Homo sapiens: one gene and its partners. The protein of the gene in region 4 purifies or fractionates together with the protein of the main gene of each other region. This does not show direct contact. Each region holds a gene or a part of one and is shown on either strand. Other genes may lie near its edges.

Region 1 (4,285 bases), on a different chromosome or scaffold from region 4:
TCCCTTCACCCACTTTGGGGGTGGGCTAGACCTGGCTACTCATTTTCATAAGAATAGCTATAGAAAGGGAAAAATACTAACTTTAATACTTAACCTAGCAAACACTAACTTAATCAAGTGATCATGGTTAATATCACTAATGATGTCACATGGATATCACAAAACCCCTGATATGATATGGTATTCTATGGTATTCTTTCCAAAAACACGTAATTCTTGACTAATCATGAGAAAAATATCAGACAAAGACAAAGAGAAGGGCAGTCTACAAAACAACTGACTAGTACTCCTCAAAATGGTCATGGTCATGAAAACAAGGAAGGACTGAGAAATTGCCAAAGACCAGAGAAGGCTAATAGAGATGACCACGAAGTGCAATATGTTACCCTGAATTGGATCCTGAAACAGAATGGGCACATGAATAGAAAAACTGTTGAAACACAAACAGAATCTGGAGTTTGTTTAAACGATGTTAATAACAGGGCACACTGGGTGAGAGGTATGCAGGAATCCTACACATCATCTTTGCAACTTTTCTGTTGGAACAATCTATAATTATTCCAAAATAAAGTTAATTTTTAAAAAGTTTCCTCTTAAAAAACTAACATTTATTTTCAAAAAAGGTAATGTCGTGAAAACGAATAATTTTAAAAAGTGAGAACACTAGGTCAGGCACAGTGGCTCAAACCTATAATCCTAGCATTTCAGGAGGCTGAGATGGGAGGATTGCTTGAGGCCAGGAGTTTGAGACCAGCCTGGTCAACACAGTGAGACCCCATCTCTTTAAAATAATAATAATAATAAAGTGGGGACACTACATACCTACCAGAAGGGCTAAAATCCAAAAACCAGATAGAACTAAGTGCTGTTAAGAACGTGGAGCAAGAGGAACTCTCATTCATTGCTAATAGGAATGCAAAATGGTACAGCCACTCTGGAATAGAGTTTGGCAGTTTCTTACAAAACTATAACTAGTCTTACCATATGATCCAGCAACCTGCTTCTAGGTATTTATCCAACTGAATTAAAAATTTATGTCAGCTGGGCACAGTGGGTTGTACTGTTAATCCCAGCACTTTTGGGAGGCCAAGGCAGGAGTTCGAGACTTTTATGACATAAAGAGTGAACTTTAATGTATGCAAATTTTAAAAAGTCATTTAGGAGACTGGGAGATTGCAGAAAAGAATGAAGACTATGACAAGGGAATCTATATTACAGATGTGTGAAACAACTTCACCAAAGGGGGTGGGAAAAAGGTTCTGACCTAAGTAGCTTTGGTAATGAGTGGAGTCTGAAAGATTAAGGGCAAAAGGAACTGCACAGAAGTATGTACTCTAGTTGATAAAGTTTTTTTCATGGAGTATGGGTTAGCAATTCTGATACTGCTATCCATGTATGTATATCCATATATAATGGAACTGGACAATTAAATAAATGGATGGTGGAAATTAGGTTTTTCACTATTGTGAATGGAAATTCAAAGATCAGCAAGGGGAGGAGGCTAGAATGATCTATGTGATAATGGATCAGAATTGGAGACACCAGTAGGAACTCATGTTTTTCCCCCCCGCCCATACTACTGAAAGTGATCTATGGAACTCGTTTAACTTAATATAGACACAGATGGCTACATAGAGAAATATTTATAGATATGTCTATATACATGGGGTTAGCATACATTCATATATTTCTTTGCTCTAACAGTTGAAAGGACCTAAAAGAAATGACACCCCAGTAGCAAAGAGAACACTCAGTACCCAGGTCTTGTTTCTAATAGCATTCTCCAATAAGGGAACCAGGGCACCTTGGGGAAATGGCTGATTCTAGCACTGGGACAAGAAATACACAAGATGAGCCTGGAACATTTCCAGATAGTAAGGAAGTACTCAAAGATCAATACAAATACGCGCACACACACACACATGTATGTTAAAGGAATACAGGAAGCTCCCAAAGGACAAAGCTGGAACAACCTGAACAACAAAATAATGTAATATTGGAGTGTAACCTAAAATATAAAATAAATATACTTGAGTCCACACTATTATCAGTAAATACTTGACTAAACTAATAAATGGGAAAGGAGAGACAAGAATTTCAAATAAATTAAGTAGGTACTCCACCCTAAGATCAAGGAACTCCCCATTCCTTAAGTGTGGGCTGCAAACAGTGACTTCCCTTCAAAGAATACAGTATAGAAAAGGAGGGGAAAAAAAAGTAAATTCACTGTAGAAACCTCACAAACACTATTTCAGGTCAATATGAACAGTCAAGGTCAATATTAAGTCATAAATCATGTTGATAGCATGTACCCTTGATATGATGTGATGAAAATGGCACTTTACCTCTGTGGTCTTCCTGCCCAAAACCTGTAACTCCAGTCTAATGAGAAAAACATCAGACAAATTCCAATAGAAGGACATCTTACAATGTATTTGACTAGTACCTCTCAAAACAGATTAAAATTTTTTTAAAAAATTCAGATGTATAATTTTTCTAGCTTTCTTAAAGACTTTCTGAACTAGTCTAAAATAATTTTAAGACTAATTGAGACTGTTAAGATACTGCTTACACCCAAAAACACAGGAACAAGCCTGGTGCAGTGGCTCACACCAGTAATCCCAGCACTTTGGATGCTGGAGCGAGAGGATTGTTTGAGGCCAGGAGTTCAAGACCAGCTTAGGCAACATACTGAGACTGTGTCTCCACAAAAAGAAAAAAATGACAGCCAGACACGGTGGCTCACGCCTGTAATCCTAGCACTTTAGCACTTTGGGAGGCCGAGGCAGGCAGATCACTTGAGTCCAAGAGTTCAAGACCATCCTGGGCAACATAGTAATACCTTGCCTCTTCAAAAAAAAAAAAAAAAAAAAAAAAAAAAATTAGCCGGGTGTGGTGGCACTCGCCTGTAGTCCCAGCCACTAGAGGCTGAGGTGAGAGGATCCCTTGAGCCCGGGAGGTGAAGGTTGCAGTAAGCAGAGATCAGGCCAACACACTCCAGCCTAGGAGACAGAGTGGGACCCCATCTCAAAAAAAAAAAAAAAAAAAAAAAAAAATTGCTGAGCCACCATTGTCGCAACATTTTTAGAATATAAAAATAAAAAAAAATAAATAAAGACACAGAAACACAGCCAACTGAATAGTCAGATACTGTTTTTATCACTTTTTTGTTCAGAGAAGATGATGCCAGTTTTGGCCAATTTTGTTCAACAAATATTTTTGACCACCTAGTTTGTTGCAGGCATTGTTGAGTCACTGAGGTAACCTCAAAGGAAAAAAAAAATCTATGTTCTGCTTTCATTTTTATGAGAAAATCTAACAATATATAGACAAACAATAAACAATTACATAACAATATATGCTATGAAGTAAATAAGGAAAAGTGAAGTAAAAGTGACCAAGAGGGCTCCTCTAATTCAGAGCTCAGAAAAGTGTCTCTTTAAGGAGATGACATTTAAGTTGAAGCCTGAGAGTGCCAGTAATACAGGCTGGGGGTAGGGGTAGAGTGAAGTGAGAAGTTCCAGAACAGAATGCAAAGACCGAAAAGAATAAGCGTAATGTGTTGGAGTTATACACATCAAGTAGGTAGAGTAACTGCCCTGATAGAAATGAGCTAAGTAATGTATTCTAAACTCCAGAGGCAAGAATAGGAAAATCATTTAAAAACCTTAAAACTCTCCAACATTGACTACCAAGAATCCTAATTAGATTAAGAACTCAATTTTTATGCGTCCCTTTAGCTACCCACCGCCACCACTGTCACAGTTGTCCATCTTCCATATGGTAAATGCCATCTTTCCTCTAAAAACTATCATGCCTGTCATTCATATTTCATCACATCTCCGATAGAAGTACTTTTTTAAAAGGGGCTGGGGGAATTCTACCCAGAAATTGCTCCTGAATTCTCCTACAGATCCCTACTTCACGTAGTACAATCATAGGTTAAGAGCAAAGGCCCTGGAGACAGACTGACTTGGGTTTGAATTCAGATTCTATCACTTAGTTCTATGATTTTGAGCATGTTGCACAGCCTTTTAAAGACTCAGTTTCCTCATCTGTAAAACATTGTGAGGATAAAAAAAGATAAAATGTAGCGGGACATGTTGGCTCATGCTTGTAACCCCAGCAATTTGGGAGGGTAAGGAGGGCAGATTGCTTAAGCCCAGGAGTTTGAGACCAGCCTGAGTAACATGGCAAAACCCCATCTCTACAAAAAATACAAAAATTAGCATGTGCCTGTAGGCCCACCTACTTGGGAGGCTGAGGTGGGAGGACAGATTGAGCC
Region 2 (4,285 bases), on a different chromosome or scaffold from region 4:
TAAGTTATGCAGGCTGCCAGGAAAAAATATTTTGCTATTATTTGTATTAGTATAAAAGGGCCTTTTAAAAGAGCTGTTTGTTTTAGGGAATGCTTTTTTTTGTTTGTGATACTCAATATTGGAATAAGGACTCTCATTTTGGGGACATGAAAGGCATAAAAAGTGCAGCTTAAACTCAGGAGACTGAGGCAGGAGGATCGCTTGAACCCAGGGGTCAGAGGATGCAGTGAGCCGAAATCACACCACTCACTTCAGCCTGGACGACAGAGTCAGACTCCATCTCAAAAAAAAAAACAAAAGTGCAGTTAAAGATACAAAAGCCTTGACCACTCACCATCCATCTCCACCAGCAGCTGGTTGAGTGTGTTCTCCTGCTCACTCTGCCCTCCAAAGTTGCCTCTTCCTCTCTTCCTTCCCACCGCATCGATTTCATCGATGAAGAGGATGCAAGGGGCATTCTTCCGAGCAAGGGCAAATAAGTCTCGGACCTTGGCAAAAACAGAAAGAGAGTCACCTGACCAGAGAATATTATGTATTCTCTGAATAAGAAATGAAATAAATCGGCCGGGCACAGTGGCTCATGCCTGTAATCCCAGCACTGTGGGAGGCCGAGGCTGGTGGATCACCTGAGGTCAGGAGTTCGAGACCAGCCTGACCAACATGGAGAAACCCCATCTCTACTAAAAATACAAAATTAGGCAGGCATGGTGGCGCGTGCCTGTGATCCCAGCTACTCAGGAGGCTGAGGCAGGAGAATCGCTTGAACCTGGGAGGCAGAGGTTGCAGTGAGCTGAGACTGAGCCATTGCACTCCTGCCTGGGCAACAAGAGCGAAATTCTGTCTCAAAAAAAAAAAAAAAAAAAAAAAATGAAATAAATCTTCAGCTTCCCGTCCCATGTGCAGACAATCTTTTTGTGATACACACTGTAAGGTACATTTTTTAAAAGAGTTACAAGTAGCAAAGCAGCAGCAAATGAGGAGTAACCTGGGTAACCGACTTAAGGTGAGCAAATCTTTCTCAGATCCCATAAATTACTGTATATGTAATAAACACTGATAATATCTGCTATTTTTGTAACATCAACAAATTAACATTACATATATACCTAAACAAAGACAACACAGTAGAGCTGTAAACTTTACATTCAGTTGAAAAGTTCAGACTTCTCTAGAGTTCACATTTCATGCCTAACACAGTTATTAACAAGCTGAGGCTACTAAGGAGTCTATGCAATCACACATATACAGTGAAGCCAAAGACCATCCAAGCCCATCAGCTCATCCCCAAAGAGGGGGTGACAGCCTTCGTCTGCCACCCACCCCACCACAGACCATCCTGATAGCACATACCCTCAGACAAACCTGCAGTCAGGAAGAGGAGGAAGAGCCACTCAGCACCTCACCATCAGTCACCTGCCCCTTCAAGGAGAATCAGAGACAACTCTCCACCTGCCCACTCCCACCCCCCCCCCCCCACTTCACTGGACAGAAGTCCAGGTCTTCCTGCCTGGATTTCTGGATGTTCATTCCTACACTGCTCTGAACACATCCCCTAAAATAACTGGTATCCTTCTCCAGCCTCCCCTCTGAATTCCAGATCTGTGACCTACAGACCCACACCTTCATAGTACATCCATCCCATCCCGGCATGAACAGGAACTCAGCCATTCCAGCAAGCCTTAAGCAGGAGTCTGCATCTTCCCCTACAGGCTAACTGGAGCTGGGGTCCACCTCACACCCCACTGCTGCTGCCAAAATAACTGCTGGAAAAGCCCCTGCTTGCTGAGGCTCAGGCCTTGTGGCAGGCACTCCACCCCACTGTGCCATGGGTCTCCCCCAGCCTGACTGCCACTAGGCATGATGTCCTCAGTGATTTCCATCCATGTGGCTCTCGGTCTCTCAGTTCCCTGACCACCCCTTCATTCACCTTTTACTTCACTCTGACAAGACCAGCACTGCCAAGGTTGCCTTTTAAACCACCATCTTCAAGTCATCTACTCTCTGAGCACCCCCTCCTATCATCTGGACCCACAGACACACTCAGGTATCTCACGCCAACTCTTTACCACTTCTCAGCTCTGCAACCCACCAGGCCCACCCTTCCCCACCACCCCCCACAGCTCCTCTCCTGTCTTCAATTTCCCCCCATCCACTTTATATCTCATGGCCCATCATCATTAACACCCAACTCCCCCTCATTCCCTATTTTTCTATGACTTATCTGCACAACAACAGCAAAGTGTGAAATAGATGTGAAGGTGAGGCCGGACAAGGTGGCTCACGCCTGTAATCCCAGCACTTTAGGAGGGCAAGGCAGGGGGTGCATCACCTGAAGTGAGGAGTTCAATACCAGCCTGGCCAACATAGTGAAACCCCATCTCTACTAAAAATACAAAAATTAGCTGGGCATGGTGGTGGGTGCCTGCAATCCCAGCTACTAGGGAGGCTGAGGCAGAATCACTTGAACCCGGGAGGCAGAGGTTATGCCGCTGCACTCCAGCCTGGGCGACAGAGCAAGACTCCATCTCAAAAAAAATTAAAAAAAAAAAAAAAGAACTCTTACAATTCAACAACCAAAAAAACCCAATTAAAAAATGAGCAAAGGATCTGAATAGACAACTCTCCAAGGAAGATATACAAATATACAAATGGCCAATAAGCATATACAAGATGTTCAACATCACTCCTCATCATGGAAATGCAAATCAAAACCACGAGATACTACATCACACCCACTAAGGTGGCTATCATCAAAGTGTTGGTAAGGGCGGGGAAACATCAGAACCCCTTACACATTGCTGGTAGGGATGGAAAATGGGCAAGTAGTTTGGAAAACAGTCTGGTGGTTCCTTAAAATGTTAAACATGGAGTTACCATTCAAAAACATGTTAAGTGAAAGAAATCAGGCATAAAAAAACCACATATTGTATAATTTCATTTACATGGAATGTCTGTACTAGGAAATTCCTTTGGGTAGTTTGCTTAGGACTCCCGATTTACATATTTTTTTTTTTTTTGAGACGAGTCTCACTCTGTCACCCAAGCTGGAGTGCAGTGGCGTGATCTCAGCTCACTGCAAGCTCTGCCTCCCAGGTTCACGCCATTCTCCTGCCTCAGCCTCCCAAGTAGCTGGGACTACAGGCGCCCGCCACCACGCATGGCTAATTTTGGTTTTGTTTTTTTAGTAGAGATGGTGTTTCACCATGTTAGCCAGGATGGTCTCGATCTCCAGACCTCCTGATCCGCCTGCCTTGGCCTCCCAAAGTGCTGGGATATCAAGTGTGAGCCACCACGCCCGGCCACGATTTCTTCTTGATGTAATGGAAATGTTGTAAAACTGATTGTGGTGATGGTTGCACAAATCTGTGAATTACTAAAAGCTACTGAACTGTATACTTTACAGGGATCAATTGTTTGGTATGTCAATTATATCTCAATAAATGTTGTCACCAAAAAAAAAAAAAATCCACAAATAAAGCAAAATTTTTTTTTTTTTTTTGAGACAGCGTCTCACTCTGTTGCCCAGGCTGGAATGCAGTGGTGTCATCTTGGTTCACTGCAACTTCTGCCGCCTGGGTTCAAGAGATTCTCCTGCCTCAGCCTCCGAAATAGCTGGGATTATAGGCATGCGCGACCACGCCTGGCTAATTTTTCTATTTTTAGTACAGACAGGGTTTCGCCATGTTGGCCAGGCTGGTCTCGAACTCCTGACTTCAAGCGTTCCACCCACTTCAGCCTTCCAAAGTGCTGGAATTACAGGCATGAGCCACCGCGCCCAGCCGTCAATTCTTTAAATTGGTCTACTATAGGTAGCAGACTGCAGTCCTAGCTGGTGCGAGGGAAGGTGGGGTGGAAGTCACAGGCCTTGCTGAAGTCTTAGGCCTGGAGGAGAGCTCAGGCCAGGGACTGGTGAGAGGTCACTCTAGCACTCTAGGGGGAAGGGCCATCTCTAGCAAGTGCCTCCATCTGTGGTGAAGTGGTGGGTGCAAGGAAGCTGTACCATCCGAACAGAATGAGACTCACTCTAGCAGGGCCCACACCAACGAACATCTCCAAAAACTCAGATCCACTAACGGTGATGAAGGGGACATTGGCTTCTCCGGCTGTGGCCTTAGCTAGCAGCGTCTTCCCAGTGCCTGGAGGACCAGTGAGAATGGCACCCTTCAGATATGAAAAAAGAAATTACATTTAATGAGAATTCCAGAAAAGTAAATTGTGTATCCACAAATAATTACAAGATATAACTCTGTCTCTAAATCTTATTGATATATATTAAATATTACTT
Region 3 (3,219 bases), on a different chromosome or scaffold from region 4:
ATGGGGGTTGCCAGGGGTTGGGGAGTGAGGGAAATGGGAAGATACTGGTCAAAGCGTATAAGTTTCAGTTATGCAAGATGAGTAAGTTCTGGAGATCTAATGTACTACATTGTGACTATAGTTAACAATACTGTATTGTATATTTGAAATCTGCCAGGAAGGTAGATCTTAAGTGTTCTTACCATAAAAGAAAAAAGGTAATTATGTGAGGTGATGGATATGTTAATTAGCTTGACTGTGGTGATCATGTCACAACGTACATGTACAAACATCGAGCTATAACTCCTTAAATATATGTAATTTCTATTTGTCAATTATGTCCCAATAAAAATGAAGAAACAAAGTCCTCCCAACATTCTGTAACTAATACATGTTTATGTGCACCTTAAGATCCTGGTTTAAACTCCATGAGCATCATGAAATCTTCCAAGGTCAATCTCAAATTTCATTTTCCACTTGGCAACACACACACACACACACACACACACACACACACACTCTCCATCTCTCTCTCAACTTGACCTATAACAAGGCAAACTTGTTTTGAAAGAACAAATTTCAGATGTCTCAGAGACTCAAACATATTAAAGGTGATCTAAATCCAATCCCTATTCCTTTAGAGGCCCAGAGGTTTAAGTAATTGCCAAATGTGTTAAATTATAAATTTCTTCAGTAAAAAATCCATGTTTTTTATTTGTAATCCAATCTGACAATGGTGGTCTGTACTCAATAACTTGTACTACCTTCAAAGTATATCCTGAACCCAACCAACCACATCTCTCTATCACACCGCACTGCCATACTCTAAGCCACTAACATCTCTTGTCTGGACTTCTGCTTTAATGTTTTAACTGGTCTCACTGTGGCCATTGTTGCCCCCACCCCCAACAATCTATTTTCATATAATAGCTAGCATAAACATAAATCACATCATTACTTCCCTTCTTAAAACTCTCCATGGTTGGCCAGGCGTGGTGGCTCACGCCTATAATCCCAGCACTTCGGGAGGTGGAGGCAAGTGGATCATGAGGTCAGGAGTTGGAGACTAGCCTGACCAACGTGGTGAAACCCTGTCTCTACTAAAAATACAAAAATTAGCTGGGTGTGGTGGCGCGTGCCTGTAATCCCAGCTACTCAGGAGGCTGAGGCAGCAGAATCACTTGAACCCAAGAGATGGACGTTGCAGTGAGCTGAGATTGCACCATTGCGCTCCAGCCTGGGCGACAGAGCAAGACTCCATCTCAAAAAAAAAAAAAACCAAAAACAAATAAACAAACCACAGCTCTCCATGGTTTTCTTCCTGTCACATTCATAATAAAATATAAATACCTTAGAGAGGCTTACAGACTCAACATCTGGTCCCTACCCCTCTAACTTTACCTTGTATCATTCTTTCCTGCAATCATTATGCTCCAACCATGTTGGTTTCCTTCTACATTTTAATCCCATCAAGCTTGTTCTTGCCTTAGGACCTTTGCACTACCTATTCCCTCTACCTGGAATATTCTCCCTCCACCTGGAATATTCTCCCTCCAAAACCCTCACATAGCTAGCTCTTTCTTGCTCTTCAGGTATGAGCTTAAGTATCACCTCTTCGGAGACGCCTTCCCTTATCCCTAAATCTAAAGCACTGAGTCAGTTACTCTCTACTCCATAACACTGTTTTAATTTCCTGCATAACATTTACCAGTATCTGATATTTTAATTTATTGTTTATTTATGTTTATCTCATCCCATTACAAGGTAAGTTCCAGAGGAGCAGAGGCCTTGTTTGTCTTTTCTTTTTTTTTGAGACGGTATTTCACTGTTGTTGCCCAGGCTAGAGTACAATGGCACGATCTCGGCTCACCACAAACTCTGCCTCCCGGGTTCAAGCGATTCTCCTGCCTCAACCTCCCGAGTAGCTGGGATTACAGGCATGCGCCACCACACCCGGCTAATTTTGTATTTTTAGTAGAGACGGGGTTTCTCCATGCCGGTCAGGCTGGTCTCAAAACTCCTGACCTCAGGTGATCCGCCCGCCTTGGCCTCCCAAAGTGCTGGGATTACAGGCATGAGCCACCGCACCTGGCCGGCCTTGTTTATCTTTAACCACTGTATCCCTGTATGTACACTGGTGCCTACCATATAGTAAGAGCTCAGTAAGTATCTGTTGGATGAAATGAATAAATATAACATATAGACTCCTTTAGGGAGTTGCTTTTCCATACTGCTCCAGCCATGCCTCTGCTCCCACCCCTCATACATCATAAGCCATGTTAAAGTTGTAAATCACTGAGAAAGATGAAGGGAAAAGCAAGGTTAATATAATGAAAAAGTACAATCATAGGAAAACGAAAAACAATACAGATAATATGTTAGAGAATTTTACTCCCACATCATATTTCTCTCTACCTTTATTGTCAGCTACCTCCTTTGTCCAAGCCAACGTCATCTCTTGCTCGTATTAGGGCATCTCCTCCTCTCTTGACCCACTGCAATCCATTTTCTTTTCTTTTCTTTTCTTTTTTTTTTTTTTTTGAGATGGAGTCTTGCTCTTGTCACCTAGGCTGGAGTGCAATAGCACGATCTCGGCTCACTGCAACCTTTGCCTCCCGGGTTCAAGCGAGTCTCCTGCCTCAGCCTCCCGAGTAGCTGGGATTACAGGTGCCCGCCACCACACCTGGCTAATTTTTGTAATTTTAGTAGAGACGGGGTTTTGCCACGTTGGCCAGGCTGGTCTTGAAGTCCTGACCTCGTGATCCCCCCAACCTCGGCCTCCCAAAGTGCTGGGATTACAGGCGTGAGCCACTGCGCCCGGCCTGCAATCCATTTTCAACATCTCAAAAAGAGATGTCCTTTAAACACAATTTGAATCATGTCATTTCCCTGCTCAGAATCCTTCAATAATGTCCCATTGTAGGATAAAATAAAACAAACATTAACATTGCCTAAAAGGCCCTGTATGAAAGATCTGGTGCCTGTCTATCTCTCAAATTTGAACTGATGGACTCAATACTGTCAATCACACTGGCTTTCTTTCTATTTCTCTAATTCCCTTAAGTCTTTCTTAGTTCAAAGCCTTACTTAGAATGTGCAATTTTCTCTGTTTGGAAATGTCTTTTCTGCTACTGTTGGCTTTGTCTAACTCCTCCTACTCAGACATCAGGTCTGAGCTAAAATATTACTTTCTCAAAGAGTTTTTTCCTGATTTTCCAATCTAAATTAGCTCCCCTTGTG
Region 4 (3,827 bases):
TGAGCCACCGTGCCCGGCCTGAATTCTTATTTTCATATAAAATATTAGATTTATAACAAGACTTTTAAGTTGAACTTCAAGGCTTAGGCAACACTAGTCCTTTGAATTTACACTTTCAATATATTTAATTGATTAAAATTCAATTGCTTTGGAGTAGTCCCTTGAGTGTACAATGTTCCCACAGATATTTAAAAGCTCAAATGATATTAGTAAGCACTCAATAAGTGGTAGTTACAGATGGTCCCTCAGTCCTGATGATTCATTTATCTTAATGATTTTTGACTTTACAATGGTTCAGAAGCAACGCACTTTCAGTAGAACGTCAATAAATTATATGAGATCTTCCACACTTTAGTATAAAATAGGTTTTGTGTTAGATGATTTTGCTCAACTGTAGGCTAGTGTAGGTGTTCTGAGCAACTTTAATGTAGACTAGGCTAAACTGTAATGTTCAGCAGATTAGGTGTGTTAAATGCATTTTTGACTTAATATTTTAACTTATAGGCTTATTAGGATGTACCTCATCATAAATTGAGGAGCATCTATATAATTAACAGTAACTCTTGCTTTCCCTGTTGTCCCCTTGAATCTCTGCAATTAAACTTCCATGACCATGTATGTATTTCTTGTGACCCTGAGGGTCCTGATTAGCCACAAGTAAGAATTACTCCAAACAAAACAATACTTCTTTGAGTCAATAATTTTATTACTATTATTTTTCACACTGAGGAGACTTAGTTACATAAAGTGATATTCTATGAATTGATTATCAGTAGTAGAAGCACAAAGGTATGGACAGTGAAACAAGAAGAAACACCCTTTATCAGAATGAAGTCCATGTGACAGAAGTACATACTTCAGACAGCCTATGTACAAATAAGTAGAGCTTCCTGTCTATGTACAGACATATTCACAGAGAATAAACTGACATAGTATCACCATGTATCTCATCATCCAGTGAAAATTACGCATAATAAACACAACACATACAAAATGACAGAAGTAATTTGGAAGTGCATCCACTGGATTTTTGTAGGGATGAGGATAGGGGTTACAATGCTCCTTTAAAACGGAGGCGAACAAAGGAAGCATGAGACCACGTCTATCCTAAAAAAGATCCTTTACAAAAATGGCATTCTGATATTTTTAACATAACCTGTCTAAAAGACAGTTTATATGTTATAGAGCAAATGTCTATGTTGGCGTCAACGTTGACAACATTTTCTTTGTTTTAACCGTATCTGAAGAACAAAAGTATAATTTCTCTTGCTTTTAGTGCTAGCAGCAACTTCACTGAATCAGGAAGGTAGCTTTTGCTATTCTTAGCTTTGATGGCTTTTTAAGTATGTGGATTGCTTGATGGTGGAAGCTGTTGCTTCCGGAGTTTTTTGACTTGAGCAGAAGAAATATCAAGGCTAGATGCAGGGTATATATGTGTACTTTGTGTTCAGGGTTCAATAGCGCAATTCAGTAACTGAGGCTCCCTCTTCCGAATAGAGTCTCAGCCCTTTAGAGAAACTCTTCAGACCACAAAACAGCCTCTAACAGAGGAATATCACTGGCCCTTGGTTCAGATACCCTTTCTTTAGGGCAATTTGGCCACTTAAGCATAAAATTGATGGGGTTGTCCAGTTTAGTACCCATGTTTACTCTATATGGACAATTTAGGTACCCAGTTCTGGTGGATTTCTAGACTATTAAGTGCTTTTTAGTAATTACTTTTACTCAAATTACATAAAAGGGCTGGGTATGGTGGCTCATTCCTTTAATCCCAGCACTTTGGGAGGCCAAAGCAGGAGGATCTCTTGAGCCCAGGAGTTTGAGACCAGCCTGGGTAACATAGTGAGACTCCATCTCTTAACAACAACAACAAAATTAGCCAGGCATGGTGGCATGTGCCTGAGGTCCCAGCTACTCAAGAGGCTGAAGTGGGAGGATCGCTTGAGTCCAGGTGTTTGAGGCTACACTGAGCTATGATTGCACCACTGCACTCTAGCCTGGGTGACAGAGCAAGACCCTGTCTGTTAAAAAAAAAATTATATAAAAATTTGTGATGAAGTTGAAACATTAAAGTTTTTAGTTGTGGGGACATCTTTATATATGTGTGTGTAAACAGTGTACCATACTAGGTTAGAAATTGTGTATTTTAGCGGAGAGGAGGAAAATAACCACCAAAGCATTATGAAATCTGCTGCTTTACATGTCCTCCCAAGGAAGGTTAGTAATTTAGGCATAAGGAATTATTGATAAATTGTATACCTCTATTTCCCATTTTTATAAGGGAACTTCTTAGACCCATCCTATATTTATATAAAAGCTCAAACACATCCTACATTTCCCAGGTATATGTTTGCTAATTATCTATTTCATTTTCCATATGGGTGAACTTTGCTTTATATAACAAAATGGATTCCTGAAAAAAATCTACAATTTTAAAATAATTTCCATGTAGTATTAGAACTTGCTAAAGAAACTGTAATAAGCTATTTTGAAAACGAAGACTGCTTTTGTGAAATGAATAATTTCTTTGATTTTCAAACAGTTTTATTAAAGCACACATCTAAAATGTATAAGTAGATTAGGATTGCCTAGAACAATAATTGTAGTTAATAAAAAATAGAACAGATAAACTCCAATTTACAATAAACAATACAAAACAGGAATGACTCATGGACTGCTTATTGATTGACTATATTCAGAAGCCCTGAATATATGTATTATTGGTATTTTATGGCTTTAATTAAGACAGTTGTCTCTTATGAAGTACTATAAAGTGCAATATTAAAAAATTAAAAAACCCAAAAGGCATCCATTGTCCTTCAGTTTTATTCTGATAAGAATTGGGGATTTGTTTAATTAAATGGCAAGAAGTTATCTACCCTTAATTTATGCATGTAATTTCATCCTTAAAATAATTTTATTCAGGATTTCAGACTTTTTTTACTTTTCTGTTTTTTATGACATGATTTTAAAAATTAGTATTTTCTTTTGGTTAGCTGAGTATTTTGGAGAACTGTTAGTCTCCAAGGCCTTAGTTACTTATGGATCCATTATGAAGGAATATGCAACCCAATATGTAAGAATGCAGAAACAAATTCCCATCCTTTTGGTGAACCCTGGCCCATGAGATCAATCAGTAGCTTTACAAATCCTATCCAACCTACCACACAAAAGGATATAAACACACTGCAGTACTGGTTAATAAGTGGAGATCCAATCATTTATCCCAGTTTCATATTTAAAATAAAAATATTGATTCCTCTTGATAAATTAGTGGGTAAGTACAGGCCCAGAGTTTTGGAGTAATCTAAAGTGGTGTCTCCCCAATTTTGAGTTCTTTGTGAGTCTGAGATTATGACCTAATGACCTTAAAAGCAGTTTGTGACCTTGACTTCACCAGAGCTTCATGGTCATGCTGCACCCAGTATAGTTCAACACTGTTCAGACAGTGATTATCATTAGTCATAAGGTTCCATCATTTAAGAACAATATAAAGAACTTAAAAAGGCTTAGTAGAGAGGAACTATAAAAATTATTAAGAGGGTTAAAGACTCAAATAAAAATCTAAAGATAATTTTAATTGAAAATAGGTAAAGAGTCACATAGCGGTAACTTCCAACTATGGGGCAAAGAGTGAAGAGTGCCCAGATGCAGTTACTTTTTGCCAAAAAAAAAAAAAAAAAAAAAAAAAGTTAAGTCATTAAGTGGATGGGTTTGGGTTAACTTGGAGGGAGGCTTTTCTTGATGCTGATGGTTGTTAATCATTGAGCTGGGTCACACCAGCATCTATGCTGGGATCTCCCCCGTAAGAGGACTGTCCTTTGGAT
Region 5 (4,285 bases), about 85 Mb from region 4:
CAGCCTGAGAAACAATGAGAAACCCTGTCTCTACAAAAAAATAAACTAGCAGGGTGTGGTGGCATGCACCTGTAGTCCCAGCTACTCAGAAGGCTAAGGTGGGAGGATCCCTTGAGACCGGGAGGTGGAGGCTGCAGTGAGCTGTGATGACACCACTGCACTCCAGCCTGGGCGACAGTGAGACTAGTCTCAAGAAAAAGAAAACGTAGCTCATAAATGCATTTTTTGATGACATATTGTGCCATGTCTTTTGACAGTCAGGAGCTGCAAAGATTACAGAGACAATCCAATCCTCTGTTTCAATACCTTTTGCTTACAAAATACCTTGATAGCAATAATTATAGTGATAGCCCCTGTTATCCTGGAAATTGTTCTCAATGAGGGTGTCTAAGAGTGCCTTATCTTTAAGAAATGTTGTTCCAGTCAATGCTAACTAACTAGGAAAATCCAGACTTGCTTAGCTTAAATAAAGTATTAAAATTCGGCATACCATTTTCTGAAACTATAAAAATTACTCTCCAATATCCTATGACTTAGCAGATAAGTGCATATCCTCTGTAAGCAGAACGCTGAGTTATGGAGTGCCAACTCTAATTCCTTATCTCATCGCAGGAAAAAAACCCCCAAGAAATAGTATCACTATGTGTATGATTTTGGATACATTGCTGACTTTGAAAGACATTCTAATAGATTATCCTCACATATACAGAATATACCTCTTTTAATTTTTGAATGGTTGGAGTAATCTCTTCTTCAAGTATCTGGAAAATAAAGAAAAATCAGTATTTTCGCATGTAAAGTATCATTAAAATTTATTTGAAAGAGAAGTAGCAGGGATGACTATGGAAAACTGAACCAAGGAAAAAAATTTTTCCCTCTTTACAGCAAAAACTCTACATGCAAAATTACATTCTTCTCCGAAAATATTTTATATGAATTAAATTACCGTCTTAATTTCTTTCAGCTTAGCCTCCTTTTTTTCTATAGTTTTCTGTGCAGCTATTTTTTTGTATTCATACATCCTGGTTCCAGCTGCTTCTTCTATCATGGATAAAATCTGGAATGACAATTTTATTAATGTTTAGTATCCAAGACAATGTGTCCAACTGGAATTTACATTAAATATATCATTTTTGCCTTGACCTCACTAAACATCTTACCAAAAGTTGGCCCAAATGAACCATATAGGTTAAATATAGTAATTTCACACAAACCTTTTCCTGTAGGCTTTTTCTGTAGGAATGAATTCTGACATGAAACACCAGCTAAGCAAGACTCCTTTATACAATCAAAATCAATTTTAATATTTGGGCATAGTGCCAAATATTACACAAATATACAACTGTCTTTACTAATCATTCCCAAATAATGTCTCCAAAAATTTTAATAGAATATTTAAAAATTGTCTGAAAGATTAAAGTAATATCTATACCAACTATTTTTAATGTCCATAAATAGTACTCTTACCTCTGGAGGTTTCATATTCAATACTTTTGTAATTCGGCCCTGAAAATAAAATAGCAAACTTACTAAGATAACAAATTACAGAAAATGTTTATCTGTACTGCCATTCATGTTTATCTAGACTGAAGCTGTTGTATCTCAATATACCAATCTTTGGGGGGGTCTTTCCTCTATAATTCTTCTATGATTCTAGAATTTTGGAACTTTGCTATTCACTTTCTCACCAGTGATACAAATTATGGAAGTTATGAAATGATACAAATGAAATAATTCATTAAATGATACAAAGTTAACAAGGATCATGTTTCTGAGACAGTTAACATTAAGTAGAAATATTCAAATTTAAAACAGGTAAATATAAAAAGAAATTTCAGCATAATTAAAAAACTTTTAACATTTCTTTGAATGATAACCCTCCAGGATAATTTCACAAAACAGATGACATACTTCTAGGCCTCAAACAAAATACAATATTTTACATCAATGCCAGAAAACCATTAAATTTATTCATTACCAAAAACAAATAAAGCAAAACACCTGCACACCCAGGTCTCAGAGAATTGTATTACTAGAATGTAGATTCATTTAAAGTAAAGTTTCAACTATGAAGGTGTGTAGTGGAAATATTTTTATTTTGGTCCCACTGAGATGCTCCCATCGACTTTACTATAATTCTCTCAAACGGCAGCTGGATGGGTCAAATGAAGTAATGTAAATGTAAGATAAAATCAGCCTTTACTCCTCATTTGTGTGAGTCTCTAAGAAAATTACTCAAGCTTTTATACTTGAAATATTAAGATGCATTAATCCAATAATTTAAAAGGATATATTATGGCTTTTTTTTTTTTACAGTTAACATGTATTGTTCTTTTAGTGACAAAACAAAAAGTCAACAAAAATTACTTCTAAACATTCTAGAGGAGTCAAAGGTCTATAATCCAGTAGAATATATCAGTGCAAGTAACTAAACCATATTTCTAAACAGATGGCCGGACACAGCACAATAGTAAATAAAAAGTATAAAATCCAAAACATAAAGTACTTCTATTTTAATTGCTTAAAAGTAAAAAATGTCGAAACTATTACGAAAGTGATATAAAGACCTCAAACGAAATACCTGCATGATGAGAAAGTGAGGGTTGTTAACATTAAGGCCAACAGAACAGAAGAGATCCTGTACTCTGGTGTTGTTGGCATTGACTCCATTGATTAAATATTTATTTCTACCACCAATAACCACCTATAAAAGAAAGCAATTTTTTAAATATTAATGTACATGCACACCTTGTGCTAGGATAAACTAAGTATATTAGCTTACGTTTATTTGTTCTGTCTGACTAGCAGTAAACAAAACCAATTCTGCATAAATAGTGGAACAAGTATGACATGGTCAAAAACGCTAACTTGAGTCAGGACAGCTAGTATCTAATGCAAGTACTTTTGGTAACTAGTTATGTAATTACACACAAGCCTCTTACCCTGGCCTGCACCAGACTAGGTCTCCGAGGTAACTTCTAGCTTTATGTTTCCAAGTATATGTAAAACACACTTTCCTAGTTACTTTCTTTCTGTAATTTTTCTAGAGGCTTTCTCTACTTTTCAACAGGAATAGATGTCAGACAAAGTAGCTTAGTATCAATTCTTGACAAGATTCAAAAAGCTATTAATAAAGACATGATTTATGACCATTTAAAAGAAAGGGTAATCATGGAGCTTCAGTATGGTTTCATTAAGTCATCCCAGACACCATACTCTACTATCACACTTAAATTGTCATTTATTGGGTATGATTGTCTCATCTACCAGATTGAAGTCCTTAAAGACAAGCTCTGTTTCTCATTCTTCTAACTGTACATCCCAGTACATTCAAGAACACCCAATATACATCAACTATTTAATAAATATTGAATAAATGTTAGTTCATTTCTTTTCCTGACAGGACTACTAGGTTGGTAGTTCATATATTAATGTATTTGAAGACCCTTCTCTGACAAAAATTTTATAATTTTGGTGAAGATACAAGTTTATGGCCTGAATGAGGACAGGAACAATTAGGTAGATTATTAGTAAGAGACTTAGTGACAGTTCCTAAAGGATAAATATTTGATGGATGCCTAATGACATGGAACAGGATTCTGTCCTAACGTGGCCTACGCTTCTTTTTTTTTTTTTTTTTTCAACCAGAGGCTTCCATTAAAATAGAGGAGAAAATCTGTAAGTGATAAATGATAAGATGGACAGTAAATAGGAGTTGACAACATTTTTAAAAACAAAATCTTGGGCCAGGCGCCGTGGCTCACACCTGTAATCCTAGCACTTTGGGAGGCCAAGGCGGGCAGATCATGAGGTCAGGAGATTGAGACCACCCTGGCCAACATAGCGAAATCCCGTCTCTACTAAAAATACAAAAAACAAAAAAAAATTAGCCGGGTGTGGTGGTGGGCACCTGTAGTCCCAGCTACTCAGGAGGCTGAGGCAGAAGAATCTCTTGAACCCGGGAGATGGAGACCAGCCTGGGTAACAGAGCGAGACTCCGTCTCAGGAAAAAAAAAAAAAAAAAAAAAAACCTTGACAAGCTGAAAACACTGCCTGACTATATTAATAACACACCTAAAAAAAAATTGAGTGGTTTCAAGTAAATCTAATATGAATCCACAATGTATTATGAACACCCCAATGCTCTACTGGGAAAAATAAAAGTAGAATATCTAAAATGAAAGAATAACTCCAACTAGACCAATTTTGGTACACCCAATCTAAGGTGCCATTAAAAGAAAGAAAGATAGATGAATGCAGGAGCAGGGAGGGAAACTGGAGCATA

The links.
Region 1: the proteins of SLC24A2 (region 4) and CKAP5 purify together in Homo sapiens (affinity purification with mass spectrometry, with the first as the bait; one large-scale study listed by BioGRID). This does not show direct contact.
Region 2: the proteins of SLC24A2 (region 4) and AFG3L2 purify together in Homo sapiens (affinity purification with mass spectrometry, with the first as the bait; one large-scale study listed by BioGRID). This does not show direct contact.
Region 3: the proteins of SLC24A2 (region 4) and PEX11B purify together in Homo sapiens (affinity purification with mass spectrometry; one large-scale study listed by BioGRID and IntAct). This does not show direct contact.
Region 5: the proteins of SLC24A2 (region 4) and SMC2 purify together in Homo sapiens (affinity purification with mass spectrometry; one large-scale study listed by BioGRID and IntAct). This does not show direct contact.

What each region holds. Positions count from the first base shown.
Region 1 is NC_000011.10:46,835,765-46,840,049, forward strand, and holds part of CKAP5 (cytoskeleton-associated protein 5), read right to left. Parts: intron 1-4,285. UniProt on the Homo sapiens protein: Binds to the plus end of microtubules and regulates microtubule dynamics and microtubule organization. Acts as a processive microtubule polymerase. Promotes cytoplasmic microtubule nucleation and elongation. Plays a major role in organizing spindle poles.
Region 2 is NC_000018.10:12,352,671-12,356,955, forward strand, and holds part of AFG3L2 (mitochondrial inner membrane m-AAA protease component AFG3L2), read right to left. Parts: intron 4,162-4,285; coding exon 4,024-4,161; intron 489-4,023; coding exon 335-488; intron 1-334. UniProt on the Homo sapiens protein: Catalytic component of the m-AAA protease, a protease that plays a key role in proteostasis of inner mitochondrial membrane proteins, and which is essential for axonal and neuron development.
Region 3 is NC_000001.11:145,913,131-145,916,349, forward strand, and holds part of PEX11B (peroxisomal membrane protein 11B), read right to left. Parts: intron 1-3,219. UniProt on the Homo sapiens protein: Involved in peroxisomal proliferation. May regulate peroxisome division by recruiting the dynamin-related GTPase DNM1L to the peroxisomal membrane. Promotes membrane protrusion and elongation on the peroxisomal surface.
Region 4 is NC_000009.12:19,506,770-19,510,596, forward strand, and holds the end of SLC24A2 (sodium/potassium/calcium exchanger 2), read right to left. Parts: 3' UTR 686-3,827; downstream 1-685. UniProt on the Homo sapiens protein: Calcium, potassium:sodium antiporter that transports 1 Ca(2+) and 1 K(+) in exchange for 4 Na(+). Required for learming and memory by regulating neuronal Ca(2+), which is essential for the development of synaptic plasticity.
Region 5 is NC_000009.12:104,096,865-104,101,149, reverse strand, and holds part of SMC2 (structural maintenance of chromosomes protein 2), read right to left. Parts: intron 2,705-4,285; coding exon 2,582-2,704; intron 1,507-2,581; coding exon 1,468-1,506; intron 1,058-1,467; coding exon 947-1,057; intron 762-946; coding exon 717-761; intron 1-716. UniProt on the Homo sapiens protein: Central component of the condensin complex, a complex required for conversion of interphase chromatin into mitotic-like condense chromosomes.